2 linked regions of the Homo sapiens genome follow. The protein of the gene in region 1 purifies or fractionates together with the protein of each later gene. This does not show direct contact. Each region holds a gene or a part of one and is shown in the gene's direction. Other genes may lie near its edges.

The links. The genes of interacting proteins can lie anywhere in the genome.
Region 2: the proteins of RDX (region 1) and PAWR fractionate together in Homo sapiens (co-fractionation; one large-scale study listed by BioGRID). This does not show direct contact.

Annotation. Positions count from the first base shown.
Region 1 is NC_000011.10:110,251,615-110,255,114, reverse strand, and holds part of RDX (radixin), read left to right. Parts: intron 1-1,005; coding exon 1,006-1,169; intron 1,170-3,500. UniProt on the Homo sapiens protein: Probably plays a crucial role in the binding of the barbed end of actin filaments to the plasma membrane.
Region 2 is NC_000012.12:79,587,172-79,589,964, reverse strand, and holds part of PAWR (PRKC apoptosis WT1 regulator protein), read left to right. Parts: 3' UTR 1-2,793. UniProt on the Homo sapiens protein: Pro-apoptotic protein capable of selectively inducing apoptosis in cancer cells, sensitizing the cells to diverse apoptotic stimuli and causing regression of tumors in animal models.

The DNA of each region.
Region 1 (3,500 bases):
TAATTTTTTAAAGTAAGATGTAAATATTAGAATTTTATTTTATTTGAGATTCAGTTATAAATAGATAATATTTATTAGGAGGCTAATGAAAACACCATTCCTAAGAAGCAATTTTAAAGTGTTTCTTCATTGGTGGCTAGAATGTAGTAGAGGTAGCCCTATTCTAAATTAACTTCGTTTATACAGTTTTGCTTTATGAACTTTGTATTTTTGTAACTTGAAGCCTTGAACTTAAGAAATCTTTTTATTTAAATAGATTTTTAAAGTTCCTCTAATGTCAAGTATACTCTAGTATCCTAACCCTGTTAGTTACTGAAAAGGTAAAAGTAAGAAGAACAGGCTGGGTGCAATGGTTCAGGACCATAATCCCAGCACTTTGGGAGGCTCGAGAGGAGCAGATCACCTGAGATGAGGAGTTCAAGACCAGCCTGGCCAACGTGGTGAAACTTCATCTCTACTGAAAATACAAATATTAGTCAGATGTGGTGGTGCATGCCTGTAATCCCAGCTACTAGGGAGGCTGAGACATGAGAATTTCTTGAACCCGGGAGGCAGAGGTTGGAGTGCACTGAGATGGCACCACTGCACTCCAGCCTGGATGACAGCAAGACTCCGTCTCAAAAAAAAAAAAGAACAATTCTAGGTTAAAAAAAACTCTACAGCCATGAACGAAGAACCAATTTTGACATTAATGGCAAATGGTGTATAAGGAACAGGTGCTCATAGTTACTTTCGAGAACAAAAAGGAATAAATGACATTTAATGTATTGCAAGGATAAGAATATTAGCCTCTTTACAAAACTGGTTGGATATGAAAAGGTGAGGAACCAGTTATGTGAAAGTATGTCATGCTCACTGGGAGTTATGAAATTGTATGATTTCTTATTTCTAAACTATATGTAATATGACATTAAAATTCATACCTCATGTTAAAATTTAGTACAGATTGTTATGAGAGACAGTATCCTTGAGGAAGATTTTAAATTCAGAATACTTTATGTTTAGGATTTTGTGTTTTATGCACCTCGTCTGAGAATCAATAAGCGGATTTTGGCCTTATGTATGGGAAACCATGAACTATACATGCGAAGAAGGAAGCCTGATACTATTGAAGTACAACAGATGAAGGCTCAGGCTAGGGAGGAGAAACATCAGAAGCAGTTGGAAAGGTATGGGGTTTATGACCTTTCACTTTTAATTGATAGGAGTAGGCTATCTAAAATTTAAGACTGCTCAGTTTTTTAAATGTACCTTAAATTTGTATTTATTAATATTTTCATTATATTAAAATTCAAAGACAGTATTATCACTCTGTCCTTTAAAACGAGTATGTATAATTTTCAAGTTAGAAATCTTTGACACATATCTCGAAGAAAATAGCTTTTTGTGACTCATTTCTTGCTTTTCACTGATAGACATTGTTTTAGATATAGTAGTTTGAAACTTTCAAAATTGTTTTGCTTGTGACTTATATTTCTTAATTTTTTCAGGGTAAGAATGTGCTGAATATTTAACTTTGAAACAATGTCAGTGACATTGTAGAACACAACTGAAACGTCACTGTGCCAAGTAGGGTAACATCAGTACTCCCTGCCAAAGACCCTAATCTTTTTAACTCTGTTTCTCTTAGACTTAAAAAAGAAACTGTTAAATATATTAAATTGATAATTTTTAAAATTGAATGGTAGTGAATAAAATTTATATCAACCCTGGAATCAGATTACTGGGTCCAGTGACATTAATTTCCAAATCTGGTTTTAGATTAATTTCAACTTTGTGCTTTACTTGAAAAAATTTAGAGACCAAACTAAAGTTAACCTTTATTGAATAAATCTTTATGGAACAACGTGATAGTCTAAGAAATAGAGTAAGTCCTTAAAAAAAATTTGAAGAGCCCTAAACATATGTATTTTAAATATTGGATATAAGGTACTTTGTATCTAGAAGGAAGCCATCTGCTAGATACCATTTTGCTACTATAGTTTTAGGTTTTATATTGAATGATTTTTTTTCTTATTCAACAACTGTTCTGTGTAAGAGATTTTATTGATTTTTACCTATTTTGTCATATTAACTCAAATTATCTTCCTTAGAGAAGTTAACCACATAACAAAACATTTTTTATATGGGTTTGAAGCTTGTCAGTAATTACTAATCCCATCATTAAAGATACTGAGTTGGTGAGCTGAGGATGGTGGCATGTGCCTGTAGTCTCAGCTACTTGGGAGGCTGAGGCAGGAGGATTGCTTGAGTACAGGAGTTTGAAGACAATCAGGGCAACAGGCAACATGCAGTGTAGTAAAACCCTTTCTCTTAAAAATAAAAATAAAAAAAAGAGTAATGAGTTGGATTGTTACTTTGATGGGCTATGTCCTTTTTTATTGTGCTCATGTGCTGTAGCATTACATTGTGGTTCTAATCTTAAATGCTTTTTAAAAATACTCTTTATTGGGCTTTACTTTCTATACAGTACATTCTTATACACATAGCCTTGCATTTCCCTCTGTCAAAGGGAAGACTTCTTTTAGTTTCCACTTAATTTTTTTAAATCGTCTTAAAGATTTCACTGTCTCTTAAAGGTTTTCTAGCATGAGATAAATGAGGAATTATTTTATATACAGTTCCTGTATCTCATACTCATCACTCTATAGTATGCCTAACTGTTCTGCTCATTCATAATGTTGATATATTATTTACATTCTCAACTTACTATATTTATCTATATATCCTTTATTTCATGGCTTATAGAGAAATACTGTATTGCTTCTAGTACAGGTAGTATGTTTACTTAGTATCATTTGGTAATGGTGCTATATTTTAGTTACTCTAAGGCTTAGATGGAAGTGGAAGACTTAAGTTTCTTTTTTGGCACAATAATCCGTAGTTCTCCTGGATAAATGTTAGAGCTCTTCATTAGTAAGCATTTATTGACTGCTTTATACTCAGTTGGAATTCAGTAACTTTTATTCAGTTTGAATGCCTAGGAGATATATTATTCTAGTCACCTAGGAATTGGCAGTCTTTCAGAAATGGCATGCTGAGTCATTTATTCCCTGCTTTACAGGTCAGAGAGAGAGAAATGGCAGCTGTATGTGTGGAAACAATTTTGATTAAGCCCATTGGCAAAGTAGCCAGCAGATATACCTGGGAGAATGCCCAGAGGTATGCTGCCTGTGCTGCTAGACTCTCTTGGGCAAGAACAGTAGTTGGGAAAGAGTAGCAAAGAGACCTCTTTCCCTACAATACTTTGGTATATTTGGCTATATTTACTCCCTATAATTTTTATAACCTAGGGGTTTTTTGGCAATGAAAATGACCTTATACACTATGAGTGGTTATTCCATGTAGTTTTTGAAGCTCTTAAATTATTGGCATCCAAATTGAATTATGACTGATAATTTTTGCACGTTTTTGTATGGCTAAAATTGTTTCCACATGTGAAAACTGAAAGCCCCAAGTTTACAGTTTAGAGTTACATACCTATGTACCAATTGTAGGTT
Region 2 (2,793 bases), on another chromosome or scaffold:
ATAAAAAGTGTTGAGATTGGTAGAAGGTAGTTTTTAAGTACATGTGCACTACCCTAAAAGACTTGTCTATTGTCAATAAAGTGTTAGTATTTGTGAAATTATTATTCCTGTTCAGAAATACTATTTCTTAAATCTCCTGGGAATTTGTGGCATAATAAAGCACATTCAAAGTTCTAATGTATTTATGAGCTCATTTTCAAAATAGTAAGTTTGTCATCTTTAAAATGAACATGACTTGCCTCCTTGATTTCTGAAATGAATTAATTGAAGATTGCTATAGTAATCTTTATTTCATCTTTCTAGAGTTGTTGACAATTTTATTATACAACAGTTACCATTAGAGAAGGAGGGAAGGGCTTTTGGGTGTGTATTTATAGGTACTAAGGGATTTACTAAATATAGTAGATTAGCACTGTCACACTTGTTCAAGTAGTTTCAAACATAGAAAATTAAGTATCAGGTATGTGGAGCAATGTAGTTTTTTTTTTTCTTCAGTTTAAAAAATTTTTAATTGTGGTAGAAGCAATGTATTCTTAAGGTGAAAAACCTACCTCGGTTACATGTGGTTTGTGTTTTTTGGATTAATCTGGATTTTATAATTAGAAATAAAAATGTAAGATTTTGAATCCACTTAATTTCTTGAAAATAGTACAAGTCAGTGTAATAGAGAAGCATTCATATATTCAACACTGTAAGACAAAACAGCAGAGACCTTGGATTTGATAATTGATCTGATATCCTGGACAGTATTCATATGTACAGTGATAGGTATCTTTCTTTGGAGTTTTTTTTTTGTGCATATGTGTATAGTTTTATGGGTTCTGAGTTGGTGACCAGTAAGTTGCATGTAGTGCTGGCACTTACTTAATAACTATTCATGATATTGTTAATAACTTGTTATAGGATTGTATTCCCAATTACAGTCTCTAAGATTGTAATTGATATTATCTGAGAGGTAGTGTGACAACTTTCTTTTGTTGTTACATTAAGCCGAAAACATAATACTAATAGACAACTAACAGTTTGCTTATCAGGCACATCAACTAAGGCACCTCCCCCCATGCTAAGTTTCTCCTGGATATATGGAAGTTGATTGTTTCCCAGTTTAAAAACTTGAACTAATATCTCCTAAGAAAATCTGAGTCCATATTGTTTTTATTTTACTTAGCTAGAATCTCATAGCATGTTAAAGTCATATCCTTATCCCCACTAAAAATAACTATGTCTATGTGAGAGGAATATAGTATGTGGGAGCTGTATTAAATACTATTACAGGTGTTACAGAATCTTTAAATAAATGGACATGGACCAACTTTCCATCTAGTAGTGTACGATCTATATAGTGCATGTCAGTAGCACAAAATGCAGTCTTAGCATTAGCCTGTCTAATCTGAATAGTTTACTCAAAAGTACTTCTTTGTGTTAAGTATTCAGCCACTGTTTTTAGATCTAGTTAATAGGTTCTATTTAATTTGCTACAACATTTACTGAATGGTGGAGTGAAAAAACTGATGCATACTGGGAAATATCTACCATTTTTTAAAGATAATGTTAATTAGGAAAAGAACACTTTTAAGGAATTTATAGCAGTGATGAAATGAATTCAGTTATATCAGATACACCAAACTGTTGATGGTATTTAAATGTGACTTCAAGTTAGTATTTCTGTATATATTATTGATTACTGGTTTGTTTTTAGATATGTAAGTCTGTTCTAATCTACAGTTCACATATCGACAGTTACTCTGGTAATAATAGAATGTTAGTGATGATCACTTGGTGGATGTTGATTAAGTGCCTGTGTTTTGTTTCCTCCTCTGGATACCAAATAGGTGTATGCTACTTTTTTGGTGAACTTATTTCTTGGAAGATTTGGCTATGCTATTCAGGGTTTTTATTCTTATGTTTTTCTTCTAAATTTAAGTAGCATCCTGCTGCTACCATATTAAAGCTAAAATTTAACTTTTGCTGAAGAATCAGCTAATTCAGGTAATCCAAATATTTGTGGAAAAACATCTGGATAATTTATTGAACACATTAGTATTGTGTTAGACAGCTTTGATCATTCCCATTTCATAGGTTTTTATTGTGGAATAGTCAACTTAATATAGATTCACTTTCAATTTGCATGTATAAAGTAATACTCAATAAAATTTTTTTCATTTATTTTTCAACAGTGGTTATTTTTTTTCTTCCTGTACTATCAGTAAAATCCTGACTATGAGTTTTACTTTTGAAGCTAAAGGATAATGCTGGTAATCTAATTATGTACCTCTTACAGAAACCATATGCAGCACTTTAAAAATCTTTATTTGGTATATTATTTTAGGTGGACAATGATTTAAGACTCAAAGCCATCATATTAAGGTCTAAATACATTAGTGGTGGGGTTTCTCGAATAAATGAGGAAGTGCACAAAAGTTCAGCCTGACTGAAAATTTTAATTGTGTTTTAAAACTACATGAATAATTTCTTGATTCAAAATCAGAACTCTTATAAACTAAATCTGATGGTGTCCAAAGAATTTCAGGTCCTTCAAAGTTTGTAAAAGATAAGTAGGGGCCTAGGAATATAAAAATTTAGACTTTTTTAGTAAATGGTTTACATAACCTTTTGTCTTAATTTGTCATTCTTCATACACAGGCACAAGCTAATCAGTCTTCTCTACTTCTAGAACTCTAAATCTTCTCAGTAATGTCATACAAGTCTAACAAGAGGAAAAGCATCCTTAAGTCAGTCTATTTAGATAAACTCTTCAAGTCCCTATATAAGGACGTATTCCACTAGCAAGCC